Regions from separate parts of the Homo sapiens genome. Here region 1 is linked to region 2. Evidence: fine-mapped expression QTL. A gene starts in region 2. The other region holds a variant in brackets. All regions are shown on one strand. Distances are between the middles of the regions. Region 1 overlaps RUNX3 (RUNX family transcription factor 3). Region 2 holds the start of RUNX3 (RUNX family transcription factor 3).

The links. PIP is the estimated chance that this variant, and not a neighbour inherited with it, causes the effect.
Region 1: its variant is fine-mapped to the expression of RUNX3 in whole blood (TOPMed, PIP above 0.99).

Annotation. Positions count from the first base shown.
Region 1 is chr1:24,896,329-24,905,729 of GRCh38, forward strand. It overlaps RUNX3 (RUNX family transcription factor 3), which reads right to left. Exons shown (of 5, transcript NM_004350.3): 5 at 3,183-6,338. The coding sequence ends at 5,794. Among named protein-coding and RNA genes, the nearest start is that of MIR6731, 18 kb to the right of the region's middle. RefSeq lists enhancers at 2,093-2,162, 4,253-4,302, 5,070-5,519, 5,850-5,919, 6,000-6,069. The variant G/A (reference allele first, on the strand shown) is at 5,373.
Region 2 is chr1:24,925,320-24,934,720 of GRCh38, forward strand. It overlaps RUNX3 (RUNX family transcription factor 3), which reads right to left and starts at 4,957. Exons shown (of 5, transcript NM_004350.3): 1 at 4,268-4,957; 2 at 2,255-2,411. The coding sequence starts at 4,549. It overlaps RUNX3-AS1 (RUNX3 antisense RNA 1), which reads left to right and starts at 5,138. Exons shown (of 4, transcript NR_183341.1): 1 at 5,138-6,707. RefSeq lists enhancers at 1,482-1,751, 3,163-3,897, 3,546-3,725, 3,898-4,631, 6,071-6,660 and silencers at 4,196-4,635, 4,836-5,305, 6,976-7,195.

The sequences.
Region 1 (9,401 bases), 29 kb before region 2:
GATGGTGCTCCCATCCAACACATACATCTCCGCTTGGCTCCCCCGTGCCACTGACCCCTGACATGGATCCTCTCCCACCTCCCATCACCATTGCGCCACTTGCCCCACCATCCTCCCAGCTCAGCGACACCTGGTTCTCCAGGCCTTTGCACATGGGATTCCCTCCTGCCACATCTCTGCTTGATCCATTCCTACTCATCTTTCCATCTGATCTCGGGGGAGAGACATTTTCTCTGAGGAGCTTGGCTTGTTTGCCCTGATCCACACTGGGCTGGCACAACCTGCTTTCCTGTCTGTCTGCCCTGTGAGATCCCTGAGGCCATGGCTGTGACTTGTTCACCTTGTTCTTGGTGTCTGGCACCTGAGGGTGGGGTGGGGCTCTGTGTCTGGTGAATGAGTGAATGAATTCTGGCCAAGGCCTCAAAGACACCCAGCCCAATGAGCTGAGTGGGGTGGTGTGGCCCAAATGGTGTGTTTGGACACCAGAGAGCCCACATTGCTGCCAGCCGTCAGGGTGGGCACAAAGGAGGGTAGTCCAGGCCGGCTCCAGGGCTGCCGCACTCCCCTTCCCATGATAGGTCCCCTGGGCCAGGCCCAGGGCAGGCCCTTTCTGTGGGTGAATATAAATATATAAAACACACAGCGCACTCTTAGCTGCAAAACTAAAAATAGGAAGCGCGGGATCCGGCTCCCCAGGCTTCCCCAGCCACTGGACCACACAGGTGTGGCTGCGGATGTCGGGGCGATGTGGCCCCTCACCCCTCCCAGCTCTGGAGCCCTCATGGGGAGGAATGAGGGGCATTTTGGATTTCTGCCAGGAACAGTTCATTCTTTCACTCTGGCCTCCCTCCTGCCCCCGTCCCATTTGACAGCTCATTTCATTTACGACCCCAAAATGAACCGACCCACTGAGGTGTATTCTCTACTCACGTGGCCAGGCTGGGTTGTTTGGTGCAGCTGAGAGCTGCCCTCTGGGCCATGCTGGGGGGCTGCATTTATGCGGGGGTGCAGTCTGGAGCAGAGGAGAGGCCGGGGCTGAGGAGGGAGGCAGGGCTGGGTCTGCATCCAGCCCTGCCCTCCCCTACCCACGGCACTGGCCCCACCCCGCGCCATCTCCTCAAGCCCTCACCAGGCCCTAACGTGGGAATGTGTCATCTCTGGCCTGTAGCCTCACTGCCAGGACATCCATTGCTCAGTGTAAAAGCCAAAGCCATCCCCATGGCCACAGCCCAACAGTGGCAGGGCTGCTCCTAGGGGCCGGCAAGGCGGGTCCATCTGGGCCACTTCACCCCACAGGAGGCCACTTCTGGGAGCCCCCAGGCCACAGCCGGCTCTCTGGGTCCATCATTGGGCCCATCTGGGCCAACCTCAAGCTGTGGGGGCTGAAGAAACTGGAGGGACTCAAAGTCCAGCCCAGATCAACAGGACTCCTAGAGCCTCCAAAGCGGAATTCTGGAGTCCAGGGGCTCCCAGGCTGTGGAACTAAATGGCTTCCTCAATCTGAACTGGCTTCTACATGACCTAAGCTCTTGCTGGTGGCTCAGGGGACATGGGTGGGGCTGGGCCCAGGGTCCAGGAGGCCAGGGTTGTAAAACTATGAAAGTCAACCCTGCCTTCAAGCCAGGTACACCCTGTCCCAAAGCAGACGATTATGGGGTGTGGGGTCCTACTCCACACCTGGCACACGGCCGGTGCTCATTCAGCGTATGACCAAAAAGGGAGACTCAGAGAGGGACAGGGACCTCCCACTGCCACACGGCTCGGGAAGGGAAAACCTTCCCCACATCAAGACCTTTAGCTGGCCCTTTCGGGAATGAGTCACCTGAGGTTGGGAAGTTCTTCTTAATACCTTACCTGAATTCTTGCTGTAACCAAGGCAGCCTCTCCTCACCCTTGTCCAAAGGGGATGATGTCCACTCTCTCCACCTGCTGCCCAGGGATGCCGCCCCCTATTGCCACCTGCAGGCTGCTGTGGCTACTGCAGCACTTCCTCCCGCAGCCCTGGGACCTCAGGCAAGCTGAGACTTCTCGGGACCTTGAGTTTCCCCTTGGCAAGCTGGGTGTGCTGGTTCGTGCCTGCTAGGGTGCAGGTGATGGAGATTTGAGTCAGGAACTCTGGAGGGCACAGCTCCTCTCCGATCTGCTGTGGCACCAAAGTGTGCCTGGTGAGGAGTGCTACCATCCCCTACAAAGTGACCCCAAATAAATAGAAACAGTTTTGGCCATGTAGATGCCGTTTCAGGACCAACCCTGGCAGAGGCTGCCCAGAGCAGACCAACAGAGAAGTTCTGTAGCCACGGCTGAGGTCCTGTCCAGAGATGGACCTGCTGTCTTTTGGGTAAAAGGGGATGCCGGGCTAGGGAAATGGAAGCTTCTTGTTGGGAGCTGAGTTTCAGGCAGACCAACCAAACTGAGCAGGGCAAAGCTTTGGGAGTGGTTTTTGAAGTCGGTGGGCATCACTCAAAAATAAGGTCTGTTTTGTAAAAATTTCCCTTCACAAATCCCAACTGGCCAGGCTCTGGGCTGTGTGTTGGTACAAATCCCAAGTGGACCAGGCCTCCTTGCTGGCAAGGTGGGAGGGGGGCTGTCAAGCCAGGTCCCCACACCATCACACCCATGCTACCATTGTTGGGCTGTGGTCCCAGTTCAGCCATGGACAACCCCAGGGAGACATGGACCTTGATGACACTCCTTCTTTGCACCGCAGTTGTCTCATCTGCAAAATGGGGGCACTGAAGTTGCCGCTTACTCCCAATCCCCACTGCTGCTAGCTTGCCACAGATCTTGAAACACGAGCCTCAGAGGGGGGTTCTCACCAAGGCACTTGGACTCTCCCTCTGCCTCTGCCCCCTCCCGAAATGTGAATCTGAGGAACAGGCATAGGAATTCCTCCCAACACGGCTGGGAAGACTCACAGCCCGCTCATGATTGGTGGAAGGGTTGTGGCACTTTGAAGACCTATTTGATGCTCTCCTGGGGTCCCAGCCATACAGGAGCAGGCCTCACCGGCTGTCCTGTGGCCAGGGTGGTCTCTGCGGCCATTCCTGAAGAAGTTGGAAGCAAGGAGATGAAGGTGCTGGGTGTCTCTGTTCCTGTTCCTCCTGGGCAACAGCAGGAGGTCTCCATCCTCTCCCCCACCCCACCCCACCTCCATGCATAGCCCTAGAAACCGGGCACTGGACTCCTTCCACACATCTCAGAGTTATATTATTGTAACAAATCAGTCAAAATTCCATTTTACAGTTAAATAGTACAGAAGACAGTTTACTGTACAAGCAAGTTGTGCGTTAAAAACAAACACCAAGCAAACGATAGTGCAAAGCAGTTTCCACCCAGCTCCATCCTCTCGCCAGCTCTGGGATGGTTTTACATCAGATGAGTGCAGCAGGTGTCACACCTCAGCATGACAATATGTCACAAAAGATTGGTACCCACTACTGACAGGCTCACAGTAACACTATATCAAAACGTCTTCCTTTCCTCGTGCTTCCTACATCAGTGTGTTTGCCTAGTACAACTTTAACGCAGCCTTGTAAATAAGGACCTACTTTTACCAGCCCAGGCTGTCTGTACCCACTTTGGGCCTTACAGACTCAGTACGGCTGCCGTCACTTTTTGTCAGGGGATGGGGGATGGGGTAGGAAGAGCAATTTATTTACTATCCCTGCCTCTCCAGGATCAGGAAGGGTTAGTAATCTGGGATGAGACTACAAAGTGCTGGGCACTGGGAACCCAAAGGTGCCTCCCACGCTGACCTGGGACCAGCTATAACCAGAGAACAGGAGGGAAGAAACTACAAGGACAATGGATTCATAGCTGCTTCCTAAGAAGGCATGGAGAGGCCCCTTGGGTGCAGGGAGTCAGCAACTATTTTGAGGAGATGGAGACTGTTTTTCCAGTGAGGACAGGCCAAGAGAAACCGCAGCAGGAGGGAATGGAATAGGATCACCAGAAGGACTGCCTAACCTGCCAGTGTGTCTCTGGTGTATGGTTCTGGCCGTTGTGACAGGTTGGGTGGGGACAGTGCTCTCACAGAGACAACCAATGAAGAGCATTTTGTAGGGCAGATTTCTGCATCCACAGAGGCCGAGGCAGAAAGTTAAAATACCGCATGCTGCTAGCCTTTATGAGTTCCCTTACGCCTTTTCTAAGCCTTTCTAGGGCCAGAGAACTCTGATGTGAGAATCCATGCAGCCTGGCCCTTGGGCAAGCGCCCACTTTCCCATTTTGCAAAATTCAGGGGCAAGACTTCACCTCGGAACGCAGTGCAGCTGAGCTGCGGCTGGAGAGCCCTTTACAGTGCTTCTGTCCTGCCACGCACAGCCAGTACTCCCCACCTCTCACATCCTGCCCACCTCCGCCCAGCCTCCTGGACAGATGTCCTAGAGCCACAGAGGAGAGATGCCCAGCGTCTCATCAGCGTTTCCCTCGTCCTCCCAGGGGAGCCTGTGGTGCAGGCTGGTGGGATGCTGCCTGATGGGGAGTGTAGCCCCTTGAGAAAGTATTGAGACCCTAATAACCCCACACCCTCAGGAGGCAGCTGGGGGTCCGCGGGGGGGAGAGGGGGCGGGGATGTTGCTTATAATCACAGAGCTATCATAATCACGGAACTATACCTGTAAGAGACCTTGTGTTTGAAAACGTTAGATTAAGCTTCTTTTTCTAAAATCAGTTTTAAAAACTGTTTTGTTTTTTTTTTGTTTTTTTGTTTTTTTTTTTTTTTTGCTCAGGACTATTTGCTTTCAGAGCACAAAACAGGTTACAGACAGGTGTGTGCCAGGAGTCGCAAGATTTGGCTGGATCCTCCCAGGAGGCTTGGGGGATGGGGCACAGCTTGGCTGGACCCAGGGGGGACAGGGACATTGATGTCTGACCCAAAATGATCCCTCACCTCAATGCCTTCTGCTAGGACCTATCTATCTGGCCCTCCTGTTCTCTCCACAAATGGAATTATGAGACCACCTAGGGGAAAGGGGACCTCCTATCCCCCCTCCCCCGCCCTGCCAAGAGAACAGAGAGTGGATGCGTTGAGCTGGTAAAGTGCATGGAGGAGCCGGTCTGTAGGTGCTTTCCTGGGTTTAAGAACCTGATGCCATAGACTCATCTTCTCTGGGGCCTGGGACCCGTGCGGCTGGGGGAAAGCCAACAGTTAGGAACGGAGGGGAAGCTGGGCTGGGGGGACTGGCTTGGATGTGTTCTCAAACCATCTCTGCCAGCAGCGTGCTGGGTCCTGCCCCATCTGTACAATGAGGGGAACCCCGCTCGAGGGTGGTGGGGGTGGGGGACACTTTCCAGTTCTGACTCAAATCTGTGTAAATGCAGAGGGGGCTGGACCCAGGGGATGCAGGGGCTCCAACGAAGGTGCAGGGGTC[G/A]GGAGGTTTCCCAGGGCCTGAGGCTTATCCTGTGGGCCAATGCTGCCTCTCTCTGGAAGAGAGATGGCCTCTGTCCCAGGAGACATGGGTCCCATGCAGCACTGGGCATAGCTGGAGACAGTGAGGTCCTTCCGGGGGGGTGGCAGGAGGCTGATTCCCCACAGAAGTATGGGATGAGACGGCCAGGATCTGGGCCGGGGGCAGTATCCCGGGCCGGGGTGGGGGTGGTAACCTATGCCTCTGTACAAGGATGTGGCTGCACAGATGCAGCCAGAGGCTCCCACCAGCTGGGACCACCCTGGGACCGAGACCACCCTGGAGCGCAGGTCCCATTCCCGCCCGGAGCCTCGGAGCCGGCCCATCACTGGTCTTGAAGGTTGTTAGGGTCCCCGCCTCCAGCGGGAGGAGTCCACCAGGGCGGTCAGTAGGGCCGCCACACGGCCTCATCCATGCGGCCTGGCGTGCTCAGGGCCGTGGGTGAGTTGCTGTGGCTGCCGTCGGCCTCCACGCCATCACTCTGGCCGCCCAGGCTGGGGTTCATGAGGTTGCCGGCGGCGACAGAGGCAGCGCTGCTGGTGCAAGAGGCCAGCATGCGGGTAGGTGAGCGGTCGCCCCCACTGCTGCTGCCGGCCACCATGGAGAACTGGTAGGAGCCAGAGGATGTCCCGTAGTAGAGGTGGTAGGGGGACGGGTTGGCCTGGAAGGGCCCGCTCTGGTTCTGCGGGGCCCCCGGGTAGGGTGGCGGGAGGTAGGTATGGTGGAAGCGGCTGGTGGCCGGCATGCCCGCCACGCTGAGGCTGCTGATGCTCGTGCCCGAGGGCGTGGCGCTGTAGGGGAAGGCAGCTGACATGGCCCCGGGATAATGCATCCTGGGGTCTGGGAAGCGGCTCTCCGTGAGGGTTGGCAGCGTGGGGAAGGAGCGGTCAAACTGGCGGGGGTCGGAGAATGGGTTCAGTTCCGAGGTGCCTGGAGGACAGCAGGGAAGAGGTCAGTTCCAGCTCGAGACAACCCCAGGAGGGCTTCCTGAAGAATGACCTTGGGCTCTGGTTCCCAAGGCCCATCTGGGGGACCCCTAGTTCTAGACCTGGCTCTCCTCTTCCTGCCCTAGGCTGCCCGGGGCCTCCCCCGCCAGGACTCCGAACACAGACCTGCCGGGAAGCTGGTTGGAGCGTGCCCCGGGCCAAGAGGGGCCATGGGAGCCCCCCCACAGCAGCAACAGAACAGAGGAGGGGGTCTATTCTTCTTTTTAAATCCTCCTTCCCAGCCTCGCAGAGGAGAGGCCTAGGATGCGGTGGTGGGGCTGAGGGCAGAGTCAGCTCAGGCCTCCCAGCAGCCCTGCCCAGGCAGGTTCCTCTCCCCACCGGCCCATGTTAACAGCTGGGAAGGCCGTGGATGTGTAAAGGGCTCCAATGACCGTGTGAGACTGGGAGTTGGAACCCGCTTTTGAAGACAAGAAAATGGAGGCAGAGAGAGAGCAAGACTGAGTCTCTGTGGCAGAGAAAGGACTGGTTCTCATCACAAGGCCTCTGCTGGGGACACACGTGCCTCTCCTGCCCAGGTGCAGCACGCGGAGGTTCTGTGCGCTCACACCTGGGTTGTGGGCACTGAGTTCACAGGAGCTCTGGCCTCCACCTCACCCTGGGCCTGTGTCTCTGGAGCCGACTCGTGGCCACACAGTGACTGGATGCCACCCTAACCTGCCTTGGCAGCAAAGTGAGACAGCAGTCAGACAAACTTGGGGACCCAGACCCCAACCTGGTCACAGTGTCCAGCCCAGACTCTGCCCCTGCTCCCCCAGGAATGTGGCTTCTCAATGGGCTCCAAGGCAAGGGTGTTCCATCCTCTGTCCCCAACTTTTGTCATCACAGACCCCCAAAACCTCAGCATTCAAAGGGGCTCAGGGATTGAGTCTAACACCCTTGATGGGGAAACTGAGGCCCAGACAGGGTGAGGCACTTCCCTCAGGGTCACACAGCACATTGGACCTGGCACACAATCCTAGGGCCTCTGGTCCTGAGCCCCAACACGTACTTGAGAGGGAGCTGTCCCGTCTTTGAGGCAGCACAGGATCAAGGCTTACTGTGTGGCTTCTGGAGCCGGACAGTTATCCTGGTTTGGACACTTACTAGCTTTGTGTCCTTGGGCAAGTCACTTAACCTCTCTGCGCATCAGTTTCCCCATATAAAACATGAGACGATAACAGTTCATCAGGATTCAGTTAATTCACATCGAGTACTTAGAATGGCACTGGGCACAGAGCAGGGGTCCATGAGGCTTTGCAAGGCCACTGTGGCTGTGGTGTCTCTTACTCTGGGTACCCAGGAGAACTGGCTCATTCAGGGCCCTGCCAAGTTGAGGCCCTGGTGCAGGGCCTCCCTTCTACTCTGGCAGCCGGGGGAGGTGGATGAGCCCCCAGCAGTGGTCCAGAGGTGCAGTCTGTCCAGCCCAGCAACCCCTCTGTGTCACCCACCAAAGGATAAGGGCCGGTGCTAGCCGGAGTGGGCTCTGCCTGCCACGCCGAGGCTTGGCTGAGGACGGAGAGCTATGAGCCTGAGGTGTGTGTGACTTCGGCTGGGACTTGGAACTTCTCGGGGCTTTGGGGTCTTCCCAAGTCAGCTGGGGTATGTTTCCCTCAGCAGCGTACTCTGGCCCTGGGCGTGGATCCGAACGGAGTGATGCTCCTGGCTTAAGGTAAGAAGATGTGGGGACAGCAGTCTGGGTGGCGGGGGCCTTCTGGGACATCTGGGATGTTCCCTAGTAGGTCACTTGGCTGTCCCGGCCCCTTGAGGCCGAGAGCCTCCGAGGCACCTGGCTGCCAGTTTTCATCTGGGGAGCCCCTCGGGGGGAGAGGTCCTGTTGCAGGTGCTGGGCACGTCAGCACAGCTGAGATGGGTGGGGTGGAAGTGGGTGCTGGCCGCCTGATGGGAACCCCATTCTCAAGACGAAGGAAACAAATGGGGACCGCAGGATACAACGGCAGGACTGTGCCCCTCAGAGCTCACGCGGGCTGCAGGGCGCTGGGCTGGGCCTCCCTGGACCTGCCACCATCCCCTCCAGCCTCTTTCCTCAGGGCCACCACCCCTCCTCCGGGGTGGTGGGGGAAGTACCTGCCCTCAGCACTCCCTCAGACCCCCCAGCAGCTTCCTTGGAGCTCCTGTACCCCCACCCTGCGGCCTCGCAGCCCCAGGAAACCCGAGCTGCCCGGGGCACTGTCGAGTGGCCAATCCCAACAGTGGAAAGAAATGTTTATTTTCTTCTCCAGATTGTCCGGGCTGCTGCATGGTGGCTGAATGAGCCCTTTCAGCTGTGAGAAGCCCCCATTGTGGGCGGCTGCGGCTGGGGGCTGGGGCTGGGGTATGGGAGGTGCTGGGGTCTCTGCACTGCTTGCCAGTGACCAATATTGGAGGGTCAAAGCACTTAACAGGCACCGAGGGAAGTGGTGGTGGGGTGTCCCAAGGGGGATCCCCAGGAGGGAGTCCGAGGGCAGAGGGAGGAGGGCCTGTGAGAGTGACTTCCCAAGCCTAGGTCTGCCAGCAACCCCTCTTTGTCAGGGACCTCCTTCTCCCCACTTCACAGATGAGAAAACTGAGGCTGAGTTTAAGTGACTTGTCTAAGATCATACAGCCAATGCCTGGCAGAGCCTGAATTCCTAGCCTGGTCCAGCTGACTGCAGAGTTCATGCTCGCCCTGTCCTGGTCATCCGAGGCCCTTTCTCTCACCCAAAGGGGATGGGCCTGAGGATGGAGATGCCTGGCTGCCTGTGGCCCAGTGCTGTGGGGGGCTAGCGAGGGACTGGGCCAGGCCTCAGGAGGGAGCAGGCAGAGAAGCAGAAGTCAGCCACTGCCCCACACAGGCTGGGCTCCTTTCCTCCCAGCCCAGGATGGAAGCAGCAGCTGTGCCTGCCGTGGGGCCAGGCATTGATTCCCAAGCTGTGCCCACCCAGCAGTGGATGGGCAGATGTGGGCTCTCCTTCCATGGGGGCTGGTGGACAGGAAGCCACTGTTCACCCCACCTCCTGGATTCTGGCTC
Region 2 (9,401 bases):
CCCCCGCCCAAACCACACAGTAATCAGAGAATCAGTGGCTGTCACCGCTCAAAGGGACCTCAAAGTCCTCCTCCAGTCCCAGGCATTTGAAGTAACAAAATCTCTAACATGTATCCAGCTCTCAATATGCGCCAGCTGATACACTTGTGTCAATTTCCCTAACCTTCCCAAAATCTCATGAGGTAGGTACCATTATCATCCCCATCTCACAGATGAGGAAACTGAGGCACAGAGTGGTTAAGTCATTTGCCCAATGTCATCCAGCAAGTCATTAGCAGAGCTGGGACTCAAACGCAGGGTGGCTGATACTAGAATGCAGGCTCTCAAAGACCTCGAGCCTCTGAAGGCTGAACGCCTTAGCCACAGTTCCTCAGACATCGGAACTCCTCCTCAGATCACTTCCTGCCTCCCAGGACCACTGAGACTGGTTATGGACCTCTGAGAGGAGATGGATGAGAGAATGGTTTATAAACTCAGCCTCTTGCATCTCCCAGAGCCACAGTCCCAGCCTCGGCCATTCCTGCTACAAGGACAAGCTCCCAACCAACGCCTTGGAAACCCATTTCCCTCCCTGCAGGCCTGGGGAGGGGGGCTCAAGGTCTGTGGGCATGAAAACCCCTAAAAAAATCATTCTCAGTGTGCAGAATGGCCAGACAAGGTCTCGGTAACTCAGAAAATCGTCGTCTCTTCTCTTTCTCTCGCTTCCCAGGAGAGAGAGTGGGAAGGGAGAATCAAGTTCCTGATGCCTTGCTGGGCTCCCAGATCGACAGCACCTTCTGCCCGCCTCGCAACAGGCAGCAGCTATAGTGCTCCTGACACATACCTGGGCTAGCAGACCTGGCCACTGCCCCGCAGTCAGCAGAGCTCATCAGCCTTGTCTGCCACCGACCAAGGACCAGTGACTGTCCTCTCAGGGTTGGGATTAAGTCGCAAAGGGTTTGAGAGATTGGGGATGACAAAAGGGACTTGGAGACTAATTAGGAGCAGCAATGAAAGCTTAATTCATAAAAGCAAACATTTTCCATCCATCAACCTGCAACCAGTTAAGGGCACCGTTTGAAAGAAATCTGTGTGTGGGGAAGGGAGCCAACAGGAACAGGAAATGTTTGAAAGAATGTAAACTATTTCAGTTTCATAAAAAGTAACAAGTAAACAGTTATTACATGCAAATAATGTCCTGGTTTTAATTAATGCTGAAAAGTCAAAATATGGCTGACATTTGTATGTATACATCGAACGGCTGGAAAGGAAAAAATGGTGCCCAGATGCCTGTTTCAGAGCGGGGCTGGCAGCTCAGAGGGAACTAGAACCTTGAGAAGGTCCTGTTTATTGGTGATGAAAAGCACGGTTCTGCTTCAGCCACTTCAGCCTGCTGTGGAGTTGGGGAGCAGAGGGAACCCAGCTTACTTCTTAACAAAGCTAGAGGCGGGCCTGGTGCTTGGGAAGGGCGACTCCCACTTCAGCCACTTCTCGTAGGCAGGCTGGTCTTAAAGGGCCAGTGGACCCTCAGGCCTCCGTTCCACAGGGGCAGGGTTTCCAGGACTTTCCCATCCAGGAGTTAAGTGATGATGGGTTTCAGGTCCCAGAAGCCTCCCATTCAACAGCCCCCCACCCCCGTCCCGCCTTCCTTCTGCTGCTCAAGGTCGGTCAGACAGGCAGGGTGGCACACCCGCCTTGACTCTGGGGCAGGAGATGGCAGCCTTCGAGCTGTGCTTTCCAACATTCAGCTGCGTTAGCTTCCGTTCTAGACCACCTAGGGCTCAAAGGCGCTGGGAAACTGGGTCTGGGAGACCACAGCTGGAGAGACAGCCTCAGAGTGTGGGGGATATTCTGCCCCCTATGGAGAGAGTGGCTGGGGTGCTTGGGCCCCACAGATCAGGGACTTGTCCTGCAACCGCCTTGCTGAAAGACCTATAAGCTCCCTTTTTGAGCTTGTTAATCCACCATCTCCTGCCAGCATTTTTTGTGAGACCAGGTGTGCTTAACCGGGAAAGAGGGGGTGGCATGAACGGTTTCAGGAGTTGGTAAACCCTAGAAACTGGGAGAAAATTGTCTTTTTCTGGCAAGAGACCATAACTTTCCTCACCTCCTCAAAGCGATCTGTAATATCCTACAGGATTACAAATTGCTGTTTTTAGACAGAGCTGCATCTGGAGACCTGTTTTTCGGGATTCTAAGGCCCCTCTTTCAACCTCCTTCCCTGCTGCCCCTGCCATTGCCAATGCTGAAATGGCGAGGCCTCCCTTCCACTTACCTCGCCCACTGCGGCCCACGAAGCGAAGGTCGTTGAACCTGGCCACCTGGTTCTTCATGACGGCCGAGGCATTGCGCAGCTCAGCGGAGTAGTTCTCGTCATTGCCTGCCATCACAGTCACCACCGTACCATCCGGCACGTCCCCCAATGCCACCACCTGAAGACACGGGGCGGGGGGATGCAGGGGGACAGCTTAGAAAGGAAGAGGGTGACCAGGGAAAGGAGGGGAGGGGCTGGGCTGGGCAGCTCCCCCAGGTCCCAGGCACACTGAGTATTTCTCCAATGCAGGGTGGAGAAGAGGCTTAAAAACAATAAAGACCTTCCCCCAAATATCACGAAAACAAGAAGATGGAATCTCGAGCTTCCACACCAAAATCCTAGATCAACTGCTTACATAAACTGTGTCCCAAGAAATCATCCTTTCAATGAAATCTAAGCCAGAGCTGTGAATCAGCTCAGTCACTATGATGTGGGGTGCAGTTCCCCTGTTGTCTTCGGCTGCAGCGAAAGAGGAATCAACATGCTCCTAGCAACGAAGTCTCCAAATGAGAAAGAGTAACAACAATAATAACAACAGGGCTGCTACCCCCACTCAATTTATGCAAGAGCTGTTTAGGGCATGAAATTTGGCCCTGAAATGTGGACCAGGCCCAGTTTATTGGCCTCTGCAGAGCCTAAATTCGTTATGCAGAGAAAATGCAGAATGCAAAACTCACTGGTGTTTTGAAAAAGGCCACCAGAAAACCCCTTTAAAGTGAGAGTGGGGCTTTTGATAATGGAAGGATGCACCTGCCGGGAATTGCAGGATGGGGGTGGCGATGTCCCCCTAAACACCATCTCCCCCAAATCCCCCACCCCCAGGAGCACGGAGAGGCGGATGCCTTTTGAAAAAGAATCAGACTTTAAACAGAGTCACAACTATTTAAACGTGGCCGCCGCGTGCAGGGACTGGGGATCCATATGGTAAAAATTTCAAGGAGAAAATGTTTGGGATCTGATTAAGAAGACCAGATTTCCTGTCAACATCCTGTCTTCTTTTAATTTCAAAGACTCCTTTTAAGCTCCAAGTGACAGTAAAACCTCCGATCTGACGATTAAAGTCACACGGGCCTCCCGCCCCTCCCGGCGAGATTTCCCCCACTGGTATTTTAAGATGTCACCCGGGAGACCTCAAAGAGCCACTCTTCCTTTTTTTCCCATTTAGAGTCGTCTTAATGGGAGCAGGGACGGCCTCAGCTTCCAGCCACCTCGGGCAGCACCACCCCCAGCCGCCGGCCCTTCCTGCCCTGCCCTTTTCTCACGGCAGCTGTGAGAGGTTTAGGGGAAAACCGAGGCGTTTTCGTTTCATCTCGCTGCCCCCTTAAAAAAATGAAAATGAAACAGTCGCCTACTCCCTGGCATAAAGAAAAAGGTCCTCTAAATGGCTGGGGGCTGCCAGGGTTAGGGGTCCCCCAATCTCAACTCGCCATTCGGGACGCATAATATCCCCGAGCAAACGTCTGGAGAGCAGTGCCCCGATCCCGGCCTAGCGCCGTCCGGTAAAATTTCGGAAGCCCGAGGGTGTGAGCAGGAAGCTTTTGCGAAGCGGCGCGGGAGGAGGGGTGCTGGAGGCGGAGGGTAGGCCCTTTCACCGTTCGCACCCCACCCGCGGTGTCCTTGCCCCTGTCCCGGGATCCTCTTCTCCGTTACCCGCAGGGCTGTATCTGAGCGATCCGGGTTAGGGGGGCGCAAAACCCCATCCGCCCATTTCCGCACCAACGTCTCTACGCAAGGCGCCCCAAAACCCAGGTGGAGCGGGGCAACCCCGTTAAAAGTCATTCCTGCAGGGCGCATCCAAAACGGAACGCCGAGGTCCCGGAGCCGAGCGCGCAGCCAGACTGAACCGGGTGCCCGGGTGTCGCCGCGGCGTCTCGGGCACCTCCCATCCCCACTGCTCCCGAGGCTCTGGCTCCCGCAGCTCAGACGCCCGGAGCCCCAGGGCCGGCGCCCTCCCGCCCCGGGTCCCGCACTCACCTTGAAGGCGACGGGCAGCGTCTTGTTGCAGCGCCAGTGCGAGGGCAGCACGGAGCAGAGGAAGTTGGGGCTGTCGGTGCGCACGAGCTCGCCTGCGTGGTCCGCCAGCACGTCCACCATCGAGCGCACCTCGGGCCGGGCGCGCCCTCCGGGCCCCACGGCCGCCTGCGCGCTCAGCGCGCCGCTGTTCTCGCCCATCTTGCCGCCGCCGCCGCCGCAGGGGAAGGCCGGGGAGGGAGGTGTGAAGCGGCGGCTGGTGCTTGGGTCTACGGGAATACGCATAACAGCGGCCGTCAGGGCGCCGGGCAGGCGGAGACGGCGCGGCTTCCCCCGGGGGCGGCCGGCGCGGGCGCCTCCTCGGCCGCCGCTGCCGCGAGAAGCGGGAAAGCAGAAGCGGCGGGGCCCGGGCCTCAGGGCGCAGGGGGCGGCGCCCGGCCACTACTCGCCAGGGCCCGCCCGCTGCGAGGCCTCGCTGGCCCGACGGCCGCCCGCAGCCTGCCCGGCTAGTCCCGCATCCTCGGCGCGCGGCCCCGCGTGCGGCCGCCCCTCGTGGCTGTCCCGGCTGCCTGGGCCGCGGCGGGGCCCGCGCGGGGCTGTGCCGCTGCCGCCGCCTCCCGCCCCGAAGCTCGCCCGCGGCCGCCCCGACTCCGCGGCCGCAGCCCCAGAACAAATCCTCCAGAATCAAGTGGCGGGGCCGCGGCCGCCCGCGCGGGGTTAGTACCCCCGGGGCCCGCGGGGCGGGGCTGGCGGAGCGACGCGTCGCACAGCCAATCGGCGGAGCCCCCATCGCGGGCACCTCGGTGGCGTTCGCGGGGAGGAACGGGGCCTGCCGGAGGCCGCCCAACGGGGAGGGGCGGAAGGCGCCACCCCGCGGAGGAGGCCCCAGTGCCACAGCCCAGGGCCCCCGAGAGCTCTGGGAGCCCGGGGCAAATGCTAGAAATTTGCTTAGAACGTCCGGGTCCCACGGAAGGCGCCCTTGCCGCCCTCTCTCGGGTCGTAGCTCCCTGACGCTGGGGCGCAACCCCTTCGCTCCTCCTCCCCGCTGGCCGCGGCCGGGCTTCCCCAGCTCTTGCTGCTTCGGGCCTGTGACTTCTGCAACCCCGGGCTGGGGGCCGCGGGGTCTCAGGGCCGGTGACGCCGCACTGGGAGCCGCCCCAAAGAGGTTACTCACCTCCCTCGTCCCGCACATTATTCTGACCCAAGAGCCTCCACCCCACACGGGATTTTGCGCGTCGTCCACGCCCGGCCGGCGGCCTTTGCTGCTCCCAGCCCTGCGCGGCTTTGGTCCCAGCCTCGGTGGCCCCTGTGCCAAACCGGGGACAGGCGGAAGGGAGTCTCCTAGGGACCCTAAGTAGCCTGGGGCCAACAACCCCTTTCCTCTCTGCTCTCCCCTCAAAACAAGTTTCAGGATCTTGCAGGCCTCGCGGCGTCGTTCTTCGTTGTGGCGGCCTGTGGCTCTTTGAAAAACACGACGAGGCCTGCAAAATGCGTTTTTCTTTTTTTCCTTTACGCATGTAACCACGGTCCTGCATCGTGAAACGGTACGCGCGTCGGTGGCAAAAGAAAAACAGCAGTGGCTGCAAAGCTAAGGGCCCTCGCTTTCAGAGGAGAGAATTTTCTTTCTCCATGCGGGTGGAAAGTGGCCTCTGCGGGTCCAACCCCACTTCTTCTTGGGCCCGTGCGCTCCGGCTGCGCCGCAGGGACCGCGGACAGCTTCGCCAAGGCACTGCCTGCCCGCCCGGCTCCGGGTCCCCGCTCCCACTCCCAGCCGCGTGGCCCAACCTCTCCTGGGCTTCACTGCAAATCACCCCTTCCTCTCCCGCCTCCTAAGTCTGTCGAGCAGACCTAGGGGCCGGCTACAGTTGGGAGGGCAACGGGAAAGATCAAGCCACAATCATTCCGAATTATCGCCCCAGACACCTCCCTAGACTCTGGGGAACGAACGCGTGCTGAGCCTCCCCGCCGCTTTGGAGACGGGGCTAGATTTTCGTTGCCTCCGGCTCTCGACAGGTGCAAAACAATGAATTCCAAGCCTCGGAAGCAAAGAAGCTTAGGATCCGACGGTGGCCGCAAGATCTCATCATGGATCTGACCCCTGCTCAGCGCGCGCCATTTCGTCGTTGCCAAACGAAATCAAGCCCCGCGTGCGCTCCAGGGGCGAAGGACTCTGGACTCACCCCGACCACCGGGAGAGCTGGCCCCTACCCACCTCGGGACCTCACAGCACGCCCTCAGGCCGTGTCGAAAGGAAGGACGGCAAAGGTCCCTTACTGAACCTTTTAAGAGAGCCTGCGCCTGGCAGTTGTCGATTGCGGACCCAGGCCCGCGCGCCCTCGGACGCGCTGGCACGAGCAGCAGAACTAGAGGAAAGCGAGTGATCCAGCCTGGGCGCTCCCACCTCCGGGAACGTCTCCGAGAAGGCGCAGCGCGTCGTGGCCAGGTAGGGCCCTGGCCGGGGGCGGGCAACACGTGCTGCCCTCGAGCAGGTTGCGGGACCATGACCCGCTGTTTCAGGTGGTGGTAAATTCCATTTGTCGAATGGTTTCGGTTTGCACCGTGCCCTTTGCTTGTTCCTCCGCCTGATTTCTCCCTCTCCGCTTACGATGGGTTCACAGACAAGTTTCCAGAGAATGAGGGACTCTTGTGGGCCCTGGCACCTGGCGCAGGGCCCGGCACGGCTCCGGCTCTCCGTAGGGCGCTGGCTCCCCGTGGGCACCAGATCCAAGGGACCAGGGCGGCGGGGGGAGGGGGGGCGGGTGCAGGCCCTTGGGTCCCCAGACCAAGGTCGCGGGGCCGCCTGGCAGGCACAGTGGCGGGAGCCGCCGCTAGTTGGCGCCCGCGCCCTGCCAGCCGCGGAGGTGCGGGCCCGGCCGGGCTACAGATGCGCGCCAGCTGCGGCCCCGGGTGCAGGCGCGGCGACCGCCCCCGAGGAGCTGCCCTTTCCTTGCCATCCATGCGGCCAGGTCTCAGACAAACCGATGGCTTTGTGTCAAACCAAGGCCGCCTTCCTCACCTCTGATAAGATGGACGCCTTCTGTCTTCGCGTTTTCAGGCACCCGGGGAAGACCCACAGAACAGGCTAGCTTGTTCCCAATTTCCACCTGCTTCCTCCCCATCCCGGACCGACAAAAATTGTCGTCTGTTTGATGGGAGGGAGAACTCCGACTCCCCCACCTGGGGCATGCAGACACCCTCGCCCTTCCCCAGTTGGCATGGACCGTCGTCTTTTCTCCCTCTTCCATCAGATCGATGGACAAACAGGCCAGTTTCTCCCCAGTGGCCCCCACCTAAGAGCACCCTAAGTTGTCCACAGCAGGGCTAGGAAGCAGAAGGTCAGGACACTCCCCTACCCTACCTTGACTTAGAGCTGGGTAAACCCAGAACCCATCCCCGGGCAAATAGAGCCAGCTCCTTTGCCCCAGGAAGGGGATTCGTCTCCCTCTGGCATTTAGGAGTGCTCTCTAAGTGCGTTCTTGGCAGTGAGGGTGCCGCCTTCCCAGGGCAGGTGTGATTCATGTGGACTCTGTGGCGCCTGGGCAGGGATCCCCAGGTATACCAGACAAGGGGCAGGTGTGCCCTGGGAAACCGCCTAAGAGGTCCATGGGCTATGGAAGGAGCTGGGGTCCACAGTCCCTCTGCCTGAGCGTGTCTTTTTCCCTCACCCACAGCGCTCTAGGGAAAGTTGCCTAAACCTCTCTGAGCCTCATTTCTTTCATTTGTAAAGTGGGGCACTCATAGTGGCCCTTCATAGAATTGTGTGTAAAGTGCTTAGCACAGGCCTGGCACATGGAGGGTGCTCCAGCCTCCGGGAGCCATCACTGTCATGAAAAAATAAGACCTCTCAATCCTTGCTGGGGGCCTTTGACCCACCCCTCCTCTCTCTGGGCCTCACACTTCCATCTGTGAAATGTCCAGTTCTCATATTCAAAGCTTACTAGGACTCCAAGCCAGTCCATGCTGTCCTGATCCCTCAATTCGCCCACAGGCTGCCTGGGGGAGGTAAGGACTGGCTGTGACCTACCTCCACGTGGAGTCAGCTCATAGCGGGGTTTCCAGCAACCATCACAGGGCGGCCAGAGCTGGGTCTCGATGATTGCCTGTCTGACCATTCCTCTCAGAACCTCACTTTCGCCCCCAGCCGGCCGCCCTCCTGTGGGCAGACCCTTTCCTGAGTAGCAACTGGGCCTCAGCGGACACTGCCAGGGACCCCGTTTCCTTCCCAGGAGGCCTCTGTTCCCCATATCCCGAATCACACAGGAGCCTAGTCCAGCGAAGAGAGCAGAGGACTCTCTTCTAGAACTGAAAATTTCTCCCAGCCTGGCCCTAAATCCCCTGTCCAGAGGGACCCGTGGTGAAACCTATCTCCTGCCCAGTGCCCTAGAACTCAAAGGGGACATTCATGCCCCTCACTGAGCCTCAATTTCCTCTTCTGTCAATGGAGGTCATTCTAACCACTCCATTTCACGGGAGGGGGATTAAGGATTCCCTCTAGGAGGGGAGGGGCATCATTGTGATTGATGATCGATTGTTTGAAGAAACAGAAAGAAAATGCTGCTGAGTAAACTAGGACTCATCTGCATCCTGATTTCAGATAATGATCTCTGAATATATAAGCGAGAAATGTTAATGAAAAATGGCAATATATCTGGGTTGAGGGGTTGTCTCCTGTAGGCCGGGGGTCCAGCTCCAGAGAGTCCAGCTCTGGGGTCATCTATCCTGGGCAGCCTCTCTGGAAGGATTCAGAATGTGTGGGAGCACAAATGTGCTTCTCAAATTACAGAGATCTTTCTTCCTTTTTGGAAAGTTCCAGACTTGGAGGGGAGGGAGAAGGAGCAAGGGAGAGCAGGGTGGTGAGGGTGTTAGGACCCAGATGCTGCCTGTGCGGTCTGAGACTTTTGCCTGGTGTCCACGCTCCCCTGAGCCTTGGTCCCCGAGGGTAAAATGGGAAGAACAGTAACAGCTGGGGGTGCTGAGGCTTTACCTTGTGCCAGGCGCCGCACATGGGCATTGCTCATGGTATTCAATCCCCACGGCGTCATATGTGGTAGGTGTTATGCCCATGTAAGCAAAGAGGAACGTTGTCCGAGGTCAGCCAGGCTAGAGAGGGCCAGACCCGGGTTAAAAGTCTGCTCTG